2 separate regions of the Homo sapiens genome follow, and region 2 is linked to region 1. Evidence: fine-mapped expression QTL. A gene starts in region 1. The other region holds a variant in brackets. All regions are shown on one strand. Distances are from middle to middle.

Region 1 (4,380 bases):
GTGAAAGGCAATGGGGGAGCGGGCACGTCACATGGCCAGAGCAGGAGCGAGCGAGCGAGTGAGCGAGAGAGAGAGGTGCCCCACACTTTTTAAATAACCAGATCTCAGGAGAACTCACTATCTCAAGGACAGCACCAAGGGGATGGTACTAAACATTCCTGAGAAATCCACCCCCATGACCCAGCCACCTCCAGCCTTGGGGTTTACAATTCAACATGAGGTTTAGTGTGGACAAATATACAAATTACCTCATGATTCTTCATAAATTTCCCAGCCTCAGGTGTTTCTTGATAGCAACAGTAAAGGAGCTAAGACACTGTGGCGTTCAGTTGTATCAGGACAGACCTGGGTGTGGGCTGGCCCTCATACGTCCTGCCGGGAGCTCTGGGGGCTTTCCAGTCTGCAGGTCGGGACGTCCTTCTACTCTGAGATGTTCTAGTATCATCAAACCGCCCCACAGACCATGCCTGGAGACTCTGCCTCACACATCCGTTCCCAGCGGTCACCAGCCCCGCATCCCTCCCTCGTCACCGCATCTGTGCGTCTCCTCTGTGACGGAGGCTGTTCCTTGGCAATGACTATCCTCAGCTTCAGCCCCCTGCTGACAGTTTTCTAGCTCAGAACCTGGCCATGTCTGCACCCTCCCTGTCTTCTCGGAAGGGGTGCTGTCATTCCCTGGGCTACACACCTGCTTTGTCCTCCTCTCTCTGACCCCAGGGCTCCAGGGTACCACTGTCCTCTTCCTTTGTCAGTTTGTTGTGGCTGGGGCTGGTGGTGGGGGAGCCACAGCAATCAGCCTGCCTCACCTTGCCCAGCCCGCATGTTCCCAGGGCTCCTGCCATCCCCACTACACCACAGCCCAGTCCGTGTGCACGGGTTATAGAGTCAAGACACAAACACACAAAAGCCAGGCAGACGGGCACAGTACCTGCCGCAGCTGCATGAAGCTTGGGGCACTATGGGTGAGAAGAGCTAGAAATGTTGGGGCCATCAGAGCCCAGGAGGACCAGCCGAGGGAGGAGCAGCTGACAGGTGGGCAGGTGCCCCTAGTCAGGGACAGCAGGACTCCCCAGGAAGAAGGATCACAGCCACCCGTGGGAGAGCTGGACTCTGTTCATCAACAGAAAAGCCGTGAGCGATTCCGCCAACAAGGTCAGTTTTACTAGTCTGGCAGCCCCCCACCCCCGGCTTCTGTAACTCAGAAACTGGGCAGTTCCGACTGCCCATCCCTCATTAGTGACTGATGGTGGTCTGGCCGGCGGCATCTCCTGTCTCCAGGCCCTGCTATGTAATTTCGGGAATGGACGCCCGTCTCCCCGACCTGACCTCCAGCTGTTTGGAGCTGAGGGGTGGAGAGGAAAGACTGGGGGGTGGAGAAAGGCGAGCACCACTGTGGGGCCTGTGGGGGCTGCTTTCCTCTTCTGCAGTGACCTGGACGGGCTGAGGCTGCTGTCTCACTCACACGGCGGTGCCCACACCACAGCCCTGGTATGCTAATGCGTCAAAACACACCTTCACCTGTTTCACATTCTTGAGTTTCAGCGAGGATGCGACAGGTCTCGAGACACATGGACGTGGGACCATGGGGACGGGTTCTTCAAGGTCCCCATGCACCTGCAGCCTGGGGGGGCTTGTCTGAAGGGCTTTCTTCCCAGTGATGGGAATCAAAGGCCCCGATCTTTGAAGCTGGCCATCAGCCTGAACGTCCACTCCTTGTTTCCTTTGCAAGGAGGAACATTCAGATCCAACACAGATAAGAATGTTGACTCCGTCTCCAGGCCGCAGGGACTGGAGGGAGGCAGGTGGTCTGGCCTCATTTTGTGAAAGGTGGTGGCTTTGTCCTCAATCTTCAGGCTGGACATCAGGACCTCCCAGGGCGCGGGCCTGCTCTGTCTCTGGCCTTAGGTGTCAGGAGGTAAGGCCGCAGACGCTGACGTACTGGGATGCCCCAAGCCCGGGAACTGGCAGCCCAGTGAGGGGGTCTCACCTGTGTCCCCTGAGCCTGGCCTGTCACTCTGTCCACGCCTCAGCTACCTGTCCCCTCCTGCAAAGGGCACCGCCTGTCGCGAGGAACTCACCTGGCTTCCTCGACATCTCGGGGGACACACGAAAAGCCCCCGCGAGAGCAGCAGGAGCCTGCACGTGGAAGGGGCTGGCGGCCCGAGGTCCCGGGGTAACAGGAGGGCAGAGGGGCTGGGCACGGCGCAGGGTCGGGAGGAGGCCTGGAGCGCTCGCCCCGCCCGGCCCCGCCCCTGGAGCGCCGCGGCCCCGCCCCGCCGGGTTGCTAGGGGAAGTGACGTCACAGCGCGATGGCGGCGGCTCCTTTAGGCAGCTGAAAGGGGATTTAGGCCCGGAAGATCCGAGTCCATCCGCGGCGGGGAGAGGGCAAGCGGGACCGGTAGGGGCCGGAGCAGCGGCGGCGGCGCTCGGACTGTCCCATCCGCCCCGTATTGAGGCGCTGGGAGCGGCGGGGCGACAGGAAAGCGATGGTGAAAGCGGGGCCGTGAGGGGGGCGGAGCCGGGAGCCGGACCCGCAGTAGCGGCAGCAGCGGCGCCGCCTCCCAGAGTTCAGACCCAGGAAGCGGCCGGGAGGGCAGGAGCGAATCGGGCCGCCGCCGCCATGGAGCTGAGAGTCGGGAACAGGTACCGGCTGGGCCGGAAGATCGGCAGCGGCTCCTTCGGAGACATCTATCTCGGTGAGGCCCCGCCGCCCCCGCCCGCCGCCCGAAGACCCGGGCCCTGCGGCTGCCAAGACCAAGCGCGATCGCGGAAGGAAGTGGTGGCCCCCGCGGGGTCTCCGCGCAAGTCCCGGCACCGCCGGATCGTGGCCAGAACCCAACGGCCACTAGGCTAGCGCGGCCAGGGGTGGGGAGGGCAGTGGGGAGCGGACGTGGGGGAGGGGCAGGACCAGGTCGGGGGAGCAGGGTCTGGAGAGGGGAGGGTTGGGGAAGGAGGGGATAGGGGAGCTGACCCGGGGTGGGGCATGGTCTCTGGGGAGCCGACCTGGGTAGGGGCAGGGTCGTGGGGAGCGGACTCGGGAAGGGCTGGGTGGGGCGTGGGGAGGCGGGCCTGGGGGAGGGGCAGGGCGGGGGTGGGGGCAGCGGGCCGTGGGAGGGGAGGGGGTAGGGCTGGGGCCGCGAAGCGGGCGTCGGCTTCCTCTACGCCTAAGGTCACCGCAGTAAACAAAGGCCACGCTCTTTCTTCCGCAGCCCGGTCCGGGGCTGTCTGGCTGCCCCCTCAGAGGCTGCCCCGGTGTCTTGCATTCGTGGGGGAAAATGTCAGAAAGACCCAAATGCCGTGTGGAGCGGGGGAGTGGCCCGGCTAGGAGTGGGGCTTGCCCTCCCGCTGGGGGTTCTCTCTGAACGGTTCCCCTTGGCCTTGGAGCGGTGACTGAGTGCAAATGAGCAAGGGTTAAGTTTAGGTGAATGTAGAGAAAGTCACACAGGATTAAGATGCTGGCAAGATGAGAGGCAGATGAGGTAGTTGTACTCATGAGGTGTCCTTTAGACTGTAACAGTCTCAAGGTAGATTTCAAAAACAATGGGATTAGAAGGTTTTGGGTTGTGTCATATTTACAATGGAAAAATATGCACGTGAACACAAGTGTGATGAAAGGTTGGCTTAAATCTTCAAGTTTGTAATTTTTTTTTTTTTCCTGAGACGGAGTTTCGCTCTTGTTGCCCAGGTTGGAGTGCAATGGCGTGATCTCGGCTCACCGCAACCTCTGCCTCCCAGGTTCAAGCGATTCTCCTGCCTCAGCCTCCCGAAAAGCTGGGATCACAGGCGTGCGCCACCACGCCTGGCTAATTTCGTATTTTTAGTAGAGACGGGGTTTCTTCATGTTGGTCAAGGCTGGTCTCGAACTCCGGACCTCAAGTGATCCGCCCAGTTCGGCCTCCCGAAGTGCTGGGAAGCCACCGCGCCTGGCCCAAGTTTGTAATTTTAAAGTAACTTAATTTTCCGCACTTGTTAGTGGGATTGTGCAATGCACGAGTTATTCCAAGATCCCCTGAATTTGAGGATATGTAGCCTGAGGCGGTGTGCCTGCAGAGGGGCTGCTGCAGACCTTTGAGGGGAGCTGTTTTCTGTTCCAGCAGCCCTAGCTTTGGGGTGTGTTTTAACTGGGGCACCTGTCAGCTAGGGTCAGGAATCCCCTGGGATGTCAGTAATGCCTCTGGTCATACCTTTTAGATGAAGCCACATGTGGACAGTCTCCAGTTCTCACACCCTTCCCACTTGTCACCAGAGAGAGGACTCAGGACCCGGTGGGCTGACAGCGTTAGGACGAATCCACACATATGGGTGGCTCATACTTTCGGTGCCTGGTTAACCTGCCAGGTGACCCTGTCACATGCCATATTGTTGCTTTTGAACCTGTAC
Region 2 (4,380 bases), 33 kb before region 1:
AGACAACTCTGGGTTCAAGGAGACGATGGAAAAAATATGCTTCAGTGTGGAAAGAAAAGAAGTTTGTACCTGGAATGTCGCCTCTAACTAAATTATCATAAAATTTAAGTATATAATAAAGATATTCTCAGGCATATAAGGGTTTTTGTTTTGTTTTGTTTGAGACAGAGTCTCACTCTGTCACCCAGGCTGGAGTGCAGTGGTGCAATCTTGGCTCACTGCAACCTCCACCTCCTGGAGTCAAGTTTTTCTCCCGCCTCAGCCTCCTGGGTAGCTGGGATGACAGGCGTGTGCTACCGCGCCAGGCTAATTTTTGTATTTTTATTTTTAGTAGAGACAGGGTTTCACCATGTTGGCCAGGATAGCCTCAAACTCCTGACCTCAAGTGATCCGTCTGCCTCCCACAGTGCTGGGATTACAGGCGTGAGCCACCGCGCCTAGCTGCATATAAGGTCTTAAGACACATCCGAGAAGTTAACTTTGAAACCCCTCTTGGAGGCAGGATCCAAGTAAGAAGAAACCGAAACAAGAAGATCCTTACAAGAGAAATAAGAAGCAATCAGATAGTTTATTTTGTCCAAAAAAGAAAAAGCAATGACAAAAAAAAAAAGCGCAGAATCTACAATGTATGTTCAATCTACATAACAATCTAGAACTAAAATTCTAGATAATACCAATGTCATGGAGAGAGGGAGGCGGAGACTGACGGACGTGGCAACATGTGGAGACATTTCTCCTGTCAGAAACAAGATGTAGATGAAGATGAGGTTTAGAAATCAAGCTGGGTGGCCGGGCGCCATGGCTCACACCTGTAATCCCAGCGCTTTGGGAGGCCAAGGCAGGCAGATCACTTGAGGTCAGGAGTTTGAGACCAGCCTGACCAACATGGTGAAACCCCGTCTCTAAGAAAAAATACAAAAATTAGCCCAGCGTGGTGGCAGGTGCCTGTAATCCCAGCTACTCGAGAGGCTGAGGTGGGAGAATCACTTGAACCCAGGAGGTGGAGGTTACAGTGAACCAAGATCGTGCCATTGCACTCCAGCCTGGGCGACAGAGTGAGACCCTGTCTCTAAACAAATAAATAAATAAATAAATGTAAAGATTCAACAATATGTTGTCTACAGAAGATACCTATTTTTTTCTTTTCTTTCTTTCTTTTTTTTTTTTGGAGATGGAGTCTCGCTCTGTCACCCAGGCTGGAGTGCAGTGGCGCAATCTCAGCTCGCTGCAAGCTCCGCCTCCCGGGCTCACGCCATTCTCCTGCCTCAGCCTCCCGAGTAGCTGGGACTACAGGCGCCCGCCACCACGCCCGGCTAATTTTTTGTATTTTTAGTAGAGACGAGGTTTCACTGTGTTAGCCAGGATGGTCTCTATCTCCTGACCTCGTGATCCACCTGCCTCGGCCTCCCAAAGTGCTGGGATTACAGGCATGAGCCACCGCGCCCGGCTTCTTTTCTTTTCTTTTCTTTTCTTTCTTTCTTTCTCCTTTTTTTTTTGAGACAAGGTCCCACTCTGTCACCCAGGCTGATGTGCAGTGGCTCGATCACAGCTCTGTGCAGCCTCCACCTCTCAGGCTTACGCAATCCTCCTCCCTTAGCCTCTTGAGTAGCTGAGACTACAGGTGTGCACCACCACACCCAGTTAATTATTCTGAATTATTTGTAGAGACGGGTCTCACTGTGTTGCCCAGGCTGATCTCAAACTCCTGGCCTCAAGTGACCCTCCCATCTCAGCCTCCCAAAGTGCAATGATTACAAACATGAGCCACCACACCTGTAAACACACTTTAAACAAAAGGACACCAATAGGTTGGAAATAAAAGGATAGAAAACTTATGAGGCAGATAGGAACCAGAAGAAAACAAAAGTCATCAATCTTATGTTCTGACAAAATGGAACAATAGAATAAGATATAACCAGTATGAACACAGGTGAAACTAAAAATAAAGACAAAACATGCAAACCAGGAATGATATAGCCACAGAGAAAACCAGATACATCACCCATTTAAGCCCAAGCTTTTAATGTGCTCCTTCAGATCTAAGTCATGAA[T/AT]TAGTTAACATGGACCTCTACGCTTGTGAAACAGAAAACAGACACTAGCATCAGTGTACATGAAACCTTGTTTAAATGCTCATTTACTGTCATCAGGAACTAAGCAAGAAAATGAGAACGAGGCCGGGCGCGGTGGCTCACGCCTGTCATCTCAGCACTTTGGGAGGCCGGGGTGAGTGGATCACTTGAGCCCAGGAGCTCCAGACCAGCCTGGGCAACATGGCGAAACCCAGTCTCTACAAAAAATACAAAAATTAACTGGGCGTGGTGACGAGTGCCTGTAATCCCAGCTACTCGGGAGGCTGAGGCAGGGGGATATCTTGAGCCCAGGGTTTGAAGTTGCAGTGAGCCGAGATTGTGCCACTGCACTCCAGCCTGGGTGACAGAGCAAGGCCCTGTCTCAAAAAAAAAAAGAAGAAAAAGAGAATAAAAATTCTTAATTCCTCCACACCCAAAGATAACCATACTTGACCACACAGACAGGCAGGAAGCTGCCTCTGGGGGCTCACACACGGTGTGGTAACGGAAGCCCGCATGCAGGGCAGCGCAGAGGGTCGGGGGGAGCAGTCACTCAGCAGAGTGGATCACTTGTATTTTTGCTGCTTCGTCTTGCTGCCTGCTCTCTGGCCGCCTCTTCAGGTGGCCACAGTGTCGTGACATCATTTGTTTCCCTCCAGAGGCTCTGAGGGAGAACGGGCTCCAGGCCTCTCCCAGCTCCTGGGGCTGCCGGCGGCCCTGGCGTTCCCGGCTTGTGCCTGCGCCGCTCCAGTCTCTGCCTCCATCGTCACGTGGCCTTCTCCCAGGCCTGTGGTTTCTCTCTTCACATCAGGACACCAGCCGCGTGGGATTCAGGGCCATCCAGTAACCTCAACTGGATGACATCTGCCAAGACCCTGTCTCCAAATAAGGCCCTGTTCAGAGGTTCCAGGCGGACACGGATTTCAGGGGACACCATTCAATCCAGGGCAACATCCCTCTCTCAGACAGCTGGAAACAACATCCTCAGTCTCGGAGCAACTGCACAGCCATCAACATACCCCACTAAGCTAAGCCCAGCTAAACACCCCAGCTCAGTGTCCCTCAGCTGGGCCCCAGAACTGCTCCGGGCACCTGATGCCAGAGGAGACGGCAGTCTGGACCAACTGCTGTCAAAACAGCTTGAGCAAATTGTATACAACCCCAGCCGGGTGAGGACATTGCCAGGCCCCCTCCAGGGCCTTAAGAGGGCTGAGGTCTGTGGTCAGGTGCTTCAGGGTGAACAGGCCTCAGCGAGGTCCAGCCAGACAGGCTGCCTCGCGGAGCCGGTGGTGTGTGCGCAGCATCAAAGGCCCTGAAGGTGGGGTTGTTAGTTCTGTGTTGCAGGAGGGAGGGCGCCAGCACGGATCCCATGTCAGAGATCCCATCTGCCGCAGCTTCTCCAAGGGTCGACCGGGAACTCAGGGGCAGGACTGAGACCACCCCCGAGCCCCATGGCAGGAATTTCCAGCCCCCAGCCTTCCACATGTCCCGTTTTCCCTAGAGCCAGTGCTGGGCCTCCCCAGGCACGAGGATGCCCAGTTGAGTGGCAATGGGAGCTCCGGGCCTGAGTAACATCCTCAAAACCAAATGCCAGGTTAGGAGCAAAGCTGGAGCCAGGAGTAGGTTCTTGTTCCTCAGAATAAGTGACTTTTACACTCAGTCAACTTTTTCTTTTTCTTTTTCTTTTCTTTTTTTTTTTTTTTTGAGACAGGGTCTCTTTCTGTTGCCTGGGCTGGAGCGCAGTGGCGCGATCACAGCTCACTGCAGCCTCCACCTCCTGGGCTCAAGTGATCCTCCTGCCTCAGCCAATGCTGTTGGGAAAATGGCCTCAGAAGACAGGACAGGGAATCACTGTGGCCTGGGCAGCTGGAGTGGGGCCCGGGAGCTGGCGTTGGACATGGGGAAGAGAGGAAGGGAGGAGGGAGAGGGAAGGAGATAAGGGGGCAAGGAGCGGAGGGGTGGGGAGCAGGGGGAGGGGAGGGGATGGATGGGGCCGGGCCACCTCCAGGCTCGCAGAGTCAGCAGGGAGAACATGAGTCGGCTCCCACCAGGGTGGGTCGGCCAGAACCCAGCAGCCTGGAGGCGGGGAGCCTGGGGCTCTTGGTGCTCAGAGGCCAGAGGGCCTCAGAGGGCAGCTGGAAGAAGGGCGGGAGCCTTGTAGAGGGGCCCTAGCCTCCCCGTGACAGGGCCAGGTCGCATCTGCTCCTCTCTCCTCCCTTCCTCGCCTCCCCTCCACTCCCCTCCCCTTCTCTCGCCCGACAAGCCCCTCTCCCCCAGGGCTCCTTCTCCTTCCCACCCCCAGCCCCAGGGG

The links. PIP is the estimated chance that this variant, and not a neighbour inherited with it, causes the effect. A credible set is the group of variants that fine-mapping cannot tell apart.
Region 2: its variant is the best candidate, but not a certain one, in a credible set for the expression of CSNK1D in whole blood (INTERVAL, PIP 0.58).

Annotation. Positions count from the first base shown.
Region 1 is chr17:82,271,622-82,276,001 of GRCh38, reverse strand. It overlaps CSNK1D (casein kinase 1 delta), which reads left to right and starts at 2,302. Exons shown (of 9, transcript NM_001893.6): 1 at 2,302-2,696. The coding sequence starts at 2,621. It overlaps LOC124904089 (a long non-coding RNA gene), which reads right to left and starts at 2,224. Exons shown (of 2, transcript XR_007065953.1): 1 at 929-2,224. RefSeq lists silencers at 2,163-2,372, 2,613-2,802, 2,853-2,902.
Region 2 is chr17:82,304,320-82,308,699 of GRCh38, reverse strand. No RefSeq gene overlaps it. Among named protein-coding and RNA genes, the nearest start is that of CD7, 11 kb to the left of the region's middle. The variant T/AT (reference allele first, on the strand shown) is at 2,052.